3 separate regions of the Homo sapiens genome follow, and all the other regions are linked to region 1. A link means that fine-mapping ties the variant in region 1 to the expression of a gene that starts in the linked region. Tissue or cell type: whole blood. Region 1 holds a variant in brackets; each other region holds the start of a gene. All regions are shown on one strand. Distances are between the middles of the regions.

Evidence for each region. PIP is the estimated chance that this variant, and not a neighbour inherited with it, causes the effect.
Region 2: MYO7B starts here. The variant in region 1 is fine-mapped to the expression of MYO7B in whole blood (TOPMed, PIP above 0.99).
Region 3: it holds the start of MAP3K2, and the variant in region 1 is fine-mapped to the expression of MAP3K2 in whole blood (TOPMed, PIP above 0.99).

Annotation. Positions count from the first base shown.
Region 1 is chr2:127,570,205-127,572,960 of GRCh38, forward strand. The region is part of intron 6 of MYO7B (myosin VIIB); the gene reads left to right. It overlaps LOC105373609 (a long non-coding RNA gene), which reads right to left and starts at 758. Exons shown (of 3, transcript NR_132317.1): 1 at 677-758. The variant A/G (reference allele first, on the strand shown) is at 1,206.
Region 2 is chr2:127,534,324-127,536,951 of GRCh38, forward strand. It overlaps MYO7B (myosin VIIB), which reads left to right and starts at 1,360. Exons shown (of 48, transcript NM_001393586.1): 1 at 1,360-1,508. RefSeq lists an enhancer at 1,392-2,242.
Region 3 is chr2:127,386,971-127,389,598 of GRCh38, forward strand. It overlaps MAP3K2 (mitogen-activated protein kinase kinase kinase 2), which reads right to left and starts at 1,005. Exons shown (of 17, transcript NM_001371910.2): 1 at 482-1,005. MAP3K2-DT (MAP3K2 divergent transcript) reads left to right here and starts at 468. Exons shown (of 4, transcript NR_187129.1): 1 at 468-582; 2 at 1,911-2,028; 3 at 2,141-2,215. RefSeq lists a silencer at 425-1,294.

The DNA of each region.
Region 1 (2,756 bases):
ATGTGTTCAGTTGCTGGAACTGAACTGGAAAGCAGTTGCTGGGCCAGAGTGAGGACTGCAAGAGGTTTATTGAGGGGTAAACCTGCAGAAGGCAAAGTGGGAGAAAGCAGGAGTGGGCAGGATGAGCCTTCAAACTTGGATGCTGCTCAGACGCTTATGAACGGGAAAAAGAGAGGAAGCAGCTTGGGTCGGGAGAGGCTCACGCTGTGATCCAGATCTAAGTCTTGGCCAACCCAGCAGGCAGCTCTGGAGCAAACTGCTCCTTAGAAGGCTCCTGGCTTCGGCCCCGGTGACCCCGGCCTCAGTCTAGTCGGGGCTGCCCAGAAGCCCGTGGCCTCGGCCCCAAGGCTGTCAGCTGCTGGACAGCACAGTCTCTCTCGTTTCTTTACAACTGAAGTTTGCTTTACATATAGTAAATATTCACCTTTTTCAAGTACAGTTTTGTGAGTTTTGACAAACTCATACAGGCCTGTGGTTCCCATCATCATCATGAAATAGAATTTTCCCTTCACCCCCCAGATCTTCTCTCACACCCCTTCGTAGTCACCCTGTCTTCCCAACCCCTCCCCTGGCAACTACTGATTTGTCTTTCCCCCGCCCCCCTTCACAGTTTTGTCTTTTCCAGAACGTCATAGAAGTAAAATCACAGGGTTTGTAGCCTTTTGTGTCTAGTTACCTTGGCTATTTGGGATTCTTCCTTGTTGCTGCCTGCATCAGTGATTCATTCCTTTTTAATGCTGAGTAGAATTCCATTGCGTGAAGGTACCACAGCTTCTCCACCCGTTCAGGACATCTGGGTTGTTTATCGTTTTTAGCTGCTAGGAGTAAAACCTCTATAAATGTTCACATACAGGTTTTTGTGTGCACATTGGTCTTTCCCTTGGATAAATATGCAAGAGTGAAATTGTTGGCTCAAAAGGCAAGTGAGCCATTTCACTTTGTCAGAAACTTCCGAAATGTTTTCCAAAATGCTCACAGCATTTTGCTTTCCCACCAGCAGAGCAGGAACATTCTGGTTGTCCTGTGTCCCCACCAGCACCTGGCACAGTGAAGGACCTGGTCTGCCTTCTGATATGTGTGGAGCATGCTTGTAACTCCCGTGGCCCTGACGACTAAGGATGTTAGCGTCCTTCCTCATGCTTACCTCCGCTCTGTATATCTTCTCTGGTGAAGTGTCAGTTCAAATCTTTTGCCTATTCTTTAAT[A/G]TTCTTTAATTGGTCTATTTCCTTACCAGTGAGTTTTTTTTTTTTTTTTTGCTTGTTTGTTTTTTGTTTGTTTGTTTTTTATTTTTTTGAGACGGAGTTTCGCTCTTGTTGCCCAGGCTGGAGCACAATGGCACGATCTCGGCTCACTGCAACCTCTGCCTGTTAGGTTCAAGCGATTCTCCTGCCTCAGCCTCCCGAGTAGCTGGAATTATAGGCATGCACCACCACGCCCAGTTAATTTTGTATTTTTAGTAGAGACGGGGTTTCTCCATGTTAGTCAGGCTGGTCTCAAACTCCCGACCTCAGGTGATCCACCCGCCTCGGCCTCCCAAAGTGCTGGGATTACAGGCGTGAGCCACTGTGCCTGGCCATTAGTGAGTTTTAAGAGTTCGTTCTGTGTTCTGGATACAAGTCCTTTATAAGATAGGTGTTACATCTTATATTGTGTCCGAGTTTGTGGCTTGTCTTTTCATTCTCTAGACAGGGTCTTTTGCAGGGCAGAAGTTTTAAATTTTGATGAAGTTCAATTTTTCCTTTTATGGGTCATGCTTTTTTGTGTTGTATCTAAGAAATCTTTGCCTAACCCAGAGATTTTCTCCTATGTTTTTCCTATATGTTTTGTAGTTTTAGGTCTTATATTTAGGTTGATGATCCAGTTTATGATTTACATTTGTGATCCGATATTTTTCTATGGTGCAAGGTACACAGCATAGAAAAAAAGACTTTTGGCTGGGCATGATGGCTTATGCCAGTAATCCCAGAACTTTGGGAGGCCAAGGCAGTCAGATCGCTTGAGGTCAGGAGTTCAAGACCAGCCTGGTCAACATGGGGAAACCCCATCTCTACTAAAAATACAAAACTTAGTTGAGCATGGTGGCATGCGCCTATAATCCCATCTACTCGGGATGCTGTGGCAGGAGAATCGCTTGAACGCAGGAGGCAAAGTTTGCAGAGAGCCGAGATCACACCACTGCACTCCAACCTGGGCGACAGAGTGAGACTGTCTCAAAAAAAAAAAAAAAGACTTTTCTGTCTTTCCTTCCTTGCTTCTTTCTCATCTTTTCTCCTTCCTTCCTTTCTTTTTCTCCTTCCTTCCTTTCTTTTTCTCCTTCCTTCCTTTCTTTTTCTCCTTCCTTCCTTTCTTTTTCTCCTTCCTTCCTTTCTTTTTCTCCTTCCTTCCTTTCTTTTTCTCCTTCTCTCTTTGTTTGTTTTGCATGTTGATACTCTATTATTCCAGTCCTATTTGTCAAAAAGACTATTTTTTCTCTGTTGACTTACCTTTGCACCCCTGTCTAAAATCAACTGACCATCCATGTATGGGGCTGTTTCTGGATTCTCTATTATCTTCAATTCCCCTCTCTGTCTATTCTTTCACCAGTGCTACACTGTCTTGATTTCTATAGGAAGCGGTGCAATCAGATAGCATGTGCCCTCCAATTTTGTTATTCTTTTTCAAACTTGGCTATTCTAGGTAATTTACCTTTCCATATATAGTACATTTTAAGATCAGCCTGTCAGTTAGTACCAAAAAAAAAAAAACTGCCTGCATCA
Region 2 (2,628 bases), 36 kb before region 1:
AGACATGTCCCAGGTGTATGCTCCTTTCACACTCAACACAGAACACTCTCTTGACCAGGTGTCCAAGCAGTTCTCCAGCAGACTCCGTCTGGATGTCCTATAATTCAATTCAATCAGACACTGTCAACCTGGAGTCATAGATCCCACAGGTTAAGGGCTCAGTCCCACAAAACTGCCCCACTTCAAATGCAGTCTCAAGTCCTAGGTTGCCACCTATACTTCTGACCAATTGGCTATAAATCGGGGTTCCCATGCCCCACACCTGAGGTTGGATTTGCTAGCATAGCTCATGGAACTCAGGACGGCACTCATATTGACCAGTTCGTGGGAAAAGATTTTACAAAGGATTACAGATGAGCAGCCGAATAAACACGCACAGGTGAGTTGTGTGGGAAGGTCATGGAGCTTCCATGCCCTCTCCCGCATGCCACCCCCCAGGGACCTCAGATGTGTGGAAGCTTGTCAAATCTTGTTCAAGAGTTTTACCTTCCCAGAGGTCAGTAGGCGGGGCTGAAAGTTCCAACCCTCTATTCACTAGGTCTTTCTGGTGACTGACCCCATGCTGAGGCTAGGTAGGGCCCCCACATGGTCACCTCCTCAGCATAACTTCAGGTGTTATCAAACGGACTCATTATGAGATGATCACTTGGGAAATTTTTTGTTTGTTTGTTTGTTTGAGACGGAGTCTCGCTCTGTCACCCAGGCTGGAGTGCAGTGGCCCGATCTTGGCTCACTGCAAGCTCCACCTCCCCGGTTCACGCCATTCTCCTTCCTCAACCTCCAGCTGGGACTACAGGCGCCCGCCACCACGCCCAGCTAATTTTTTTGTGTGTGTGTTTTTAGTAGAGATGGGGTTTCACCGTGTTAGCCAGGATGGTCTTGATCTCCTGACCTTGTGATCCGCCTGCCTCGGCCTCCCAAAATGCTGGGATTACAGGCGTGAGCCACCATGCCCGACGATCACTTTGGAAATTCTAAGGGTTTTAGGAGTTCTGTGACACCAACCGGGAACAAGGACCAAATATACTGTATTTTATATTATACTACCACCCTCAATTAGAGCTTGGGGTGCTTGGGGGCAGAGCTCCTGCCATGCAGCACCTGGGAAGATGCTGAGCCCCCGGATGGTCAGCTGACTGTCACCATGGGATCTGGCTGGTGGCCAGAGCAGGTGCACAGACTGCAAACCCTGGTGGCCTCCGGGCAGCATGCATCGCTGCTCTGCAGAAGGGGCCTGGGTTAAAGAGCAGGTATCATGAGGCTCTGCCAGCTGGGGCTGAGGGAGGCGTGTGGGAGTGGAAGTGCCTGGAGCCCAGGGACAAAGTCCTGTAATAAATTACGTGGGCCCAGAGTGCTCCCAGTCATTTCCTCTTGGAGCCCTACCTCTTCTTCCTCTGTCCCTTACTCCCTGACACACCCGGAGTCCCAACATTGCCTCCTTTCCTGGCTCTTTCAGGGTGCCCAGGGTGGAGGGGAAGGGGAGTCAGCCAGACCCCCATCCTGACAAGGTAAGGGCGTGCCGGGGGCGTGTCTGCCAGCGGGGAGTAGGGGGTCACCTCTCTGAAGAGGGTCGCTGGGCAGGAGGCAGGTCCCCTGGAAATAAGATGGAACAGGTCTGAGGGATAGAGAGTGGAGAAGCCCTTCAGGAGCCTGGAAACCAGAAACCGCAGCAGGGGACTCAGTCCATCGGGCTGAAGGGCAGCACCTGGGGGGCTGAGGAGGAGGAGGAGGGGGAGAAGCTGTCTAGCCCTCTGCTGTAGAAGGGCAAACTCCCTGCAGGAGGGGAACGGCAGGTGCCAAGGCTGCTCCCACCCTGAAGCCTCCTCACAGCTAGAGGGCCTCACTGTGGAATCATGGGACATCATGGATAGCCTGGGTCCCATGATGAGCCCCTGCCAGATGTCAGCTGTGCCGTGTGTGACATCCCACTGCGTCCTCGCAACACAGTGGTGGAATTGCCTCCATTTTATGGACACAGAGACTGAGGACCATGGAAGCGAAGGTGCCCACGGGAAGAAGCAGAGCCGGATTCGACTCCAAAGCCCAGGCTTATCCGCCTTACCCATGTACCTTGGGCAATTGGCTTTAGTCACCTCTGGAAGGCTGGGACCCTAGGGAGAGGCAGGACAGGTCTGGGGTGTGGTGGGGGGGGGGGTGGGGGAAGAGGTGGCTGAGGAGAGGGACCGCACCGGGGCTCACATGGGCTGTCCCCCTTGAGCTGTCCAGGTGGTGTGTGTCCCATCCCCATTTCACAGAGGACGAAACTTGAGACACAGAGATTGTGAGAGCTGGCCCAGGTCAGACAGCTGGTGGGTGTGGGGCCCCCAACCCAGATCCCCCAAATTCTCCATGACGAGGCCTCCCCTTCAGGCTCCACTTTGTAACCCTGGACTTGAATTTTGCTCTAATTTATCAGAACCCTGCACTTTGTTTAGGATTTTAGTTCAGAGATTCACACACACCCTCAGTGAATCATTGTTAGGAACCACTCAGCTCATCAGCCCACCCCATCTCCCTGGACCTGCTGGGGGCCCTACGTCTGTCCTCAGATGCCACCTCTAAGAGAATCCTCCCCAGGCGGCTGTCTTGGGGCCTGCTGCATCCACAGCTCTAGCACGGGGCTCTGTG
Region 3 (2,628 bases), 180 kb before region 1:
TGAGCTGGGAAGATGAAGAGAGATAATGCATGACAACTGCCGGGCGCAGACTAAGAGCACCCTAAGTGCTACCTAAATATTCCGTAAAGAGAAAAGGGGGAAACAACCTTACATCAAAAGATTACCACACTGTGACAGTGCAAAGACAAGCACTTTTTCGCTTACTGCATGTACCATTTCTGCTTCATCCCAAGACCAGATGCAACCTTTCTTCTAAAATCTCTGCAGGGTACGTGTCTGACAGCTAACACAGCCCAGCAGCCTACTTCGCGCTGACCTGGGCTTTAGGACTGGATGCAGGGGGCCCAAGGTCCGCCCTCCCGCAGCTAGGCAATCACCCAGCGAAATCTCCGCCCCTGGAGCGGCGCTTAGGCCGCCGCCAGCCCCCCTCCCGGCGCCCAGCCCGCGGCCCCCGACACACACGCGCGCACACACACACACACACACACACAAGCGCGCGCGCACGCACACACGCACGTACCGGCTGCTCCGCAGGGACGTAGAGAGCCGCAGGCCCAAGGAGGGGCCGCCCCCGCCGAGCCCGCCCCTCCGCCCCAGCGCGGCCTGTCACCGCGGCCCCAGGTCGGGGGCTGCCGCAGGGCCCCCGGGGACCGGAGGGGCGCGCGAGGAGTCGGGCGCGGGCCTTGGGGCCAGGCCCGTCCCTCTTTCACATGAAGCCCGGGCCGGGCGGGGTGGCGGGCGCGTGAATCCTCGCAGCCGGCCGGGTCCTCCTGGCGCTCCTCGGCACTTCTAGCCGCTGCAACCCCGAGGCCCGCGGGAACTGGGCAGGAAAGGAGGAAGCCGCGGGCCCGCGTCGCTAGAGACCGGAGAAGAGGCGGGAGTGGCGACTCTGCGGACAGGGGCGCCGAGCGTCCTGGTCGTTGTTTTCGTCGCCGCCGCGGGCCGTGCAACCCCCGAACGCTGCGCCCAGCGGCCGCGGCACCCTCGTCAGGCGCCGCCGCTGAGGGCAGGCAGCCCGGCAGCCACTACACACGGACCCGTGACGTCGGGCGTAGCGCGGCGCACGTCACGGCCGCTCGCTCGTGCGCGCGCACCCCTCCGCCCGGCGGTAGCGGAACCCGCCGCGGGCGCGCGCCCGGCCCAGGGGAGTGGGTCGGCGCCTGCGCAGAGGCCCGCCACGCCCACACACAGGCCACCGCCCCCACCGGCCGGACGGCGCGGGGATTCCCAGTCCTGGCTCCGCCCCGGCCTCGGCCCCGCCCCCGCCCCTGCCCCGGGGCAGCCTGTGCTGTTCCGTGTGCGCGGCGCATACGCACCTGGGTTGTCTCGAGCCTGCGGTAGTGGCCAGATCCCAGACATCCGAGTAGATCCCGTGAAAAGGTCTCCCACGTGGGCTGTGGACAGGGCCCAAGGGTAGCAGAGCTAGCAGAGGCAGTGACGGACTGTGTGGCAGGTCATTTGCAAGGAGAAAAGCCGTCTGCCTCTTAATTTGTGGCTCAAGTTTCAGAATTTTTTTCCTGAGGGACTTTAGAAATTACTTCAGGCTTGCCACCTAACCTTAAACCACCCCCTTGGAGACTGGCTAAGTGTTATTTGTGTTTTCTGTTTAGTTCTTATCACCATCGATACTTGGTTATGACTGGTTGTGTACATTGGTTAGCCCAGCAAGTATTACTTCTCCAGCTTAACAGATGTGGAAACTTAAGCCCAGAGACATGAGTTGACACCCCACCCCCAAAGCTAGAGTCTAAAACCCTTTCTTTCGCTCCTCATCTCCCACAGGATAAAATGCAAATTAATCAGACTAGTGGTGAGGCCCTCCGTGGTGTGACTAACCTGCATCCCGACGTTTTCACCCTACTTTGATCCAGAAAGCACCTTTCCGCCCCATCTCTTCTCCTTTCCTTAAATACCCCTTACAACTTCCTGTACCATTCTTCCCTGTTCAGCTTCTTCTTGGTTTCTTCGTACATTCTGGATCCACCCCTTTCATGCATATTCCAGACCACATTTCCACTGGAGCAGTTGAAATGAGAGAGATGGGAATGGGACTCACCCGAACCAGAGGTAAGGAGCTACCCAACTTGGGCTCTGAGGGTCAAGGGAGCTGGCACTTGTGGGGCAGAGACTGAGGGAGAAACTGTTGTGTAATGTCAAAATATCTCTGGGTTTCTTCCAGGAATTTTTATTACAGACCCATTAACAGAGGTGTCAAAGTCACAGGAACAAGGATGTGCACCTCAGAAACACAGAGGTCAGTGGAAAATCAGTTTGCTTCTATTTGTTTAAAAAATGGGGGACTTATGCATAAATCTAAGACCTTCTTGAATCTAACATTCTAAGACCTGTATGCCACAGAAAGGAGGGTCTCAGAACGCCGGAGGATAGTATTTAAATCTTAAATATCTATATTGTTCTCCACAGTTACTGGGTCACCACATAGCAGGCATTCAATAAAAACGTGTTTGTTTACTAAGTAATCTAGAGATAAATTTTTTCCCCTCATAGTGCTGCTCATTTCTCCACTCCCTTCCCTCACTTACCACCCCGGGGACTTCATTCACCTCTGGGTTCCTCAGAAACATCCCGTGGGTATAGTTATAGTAGCTATTCTTTCTTTTTCGCCATTCTCCTTTTATATTGGTGACTTTTCCTCTTGCTTAGATA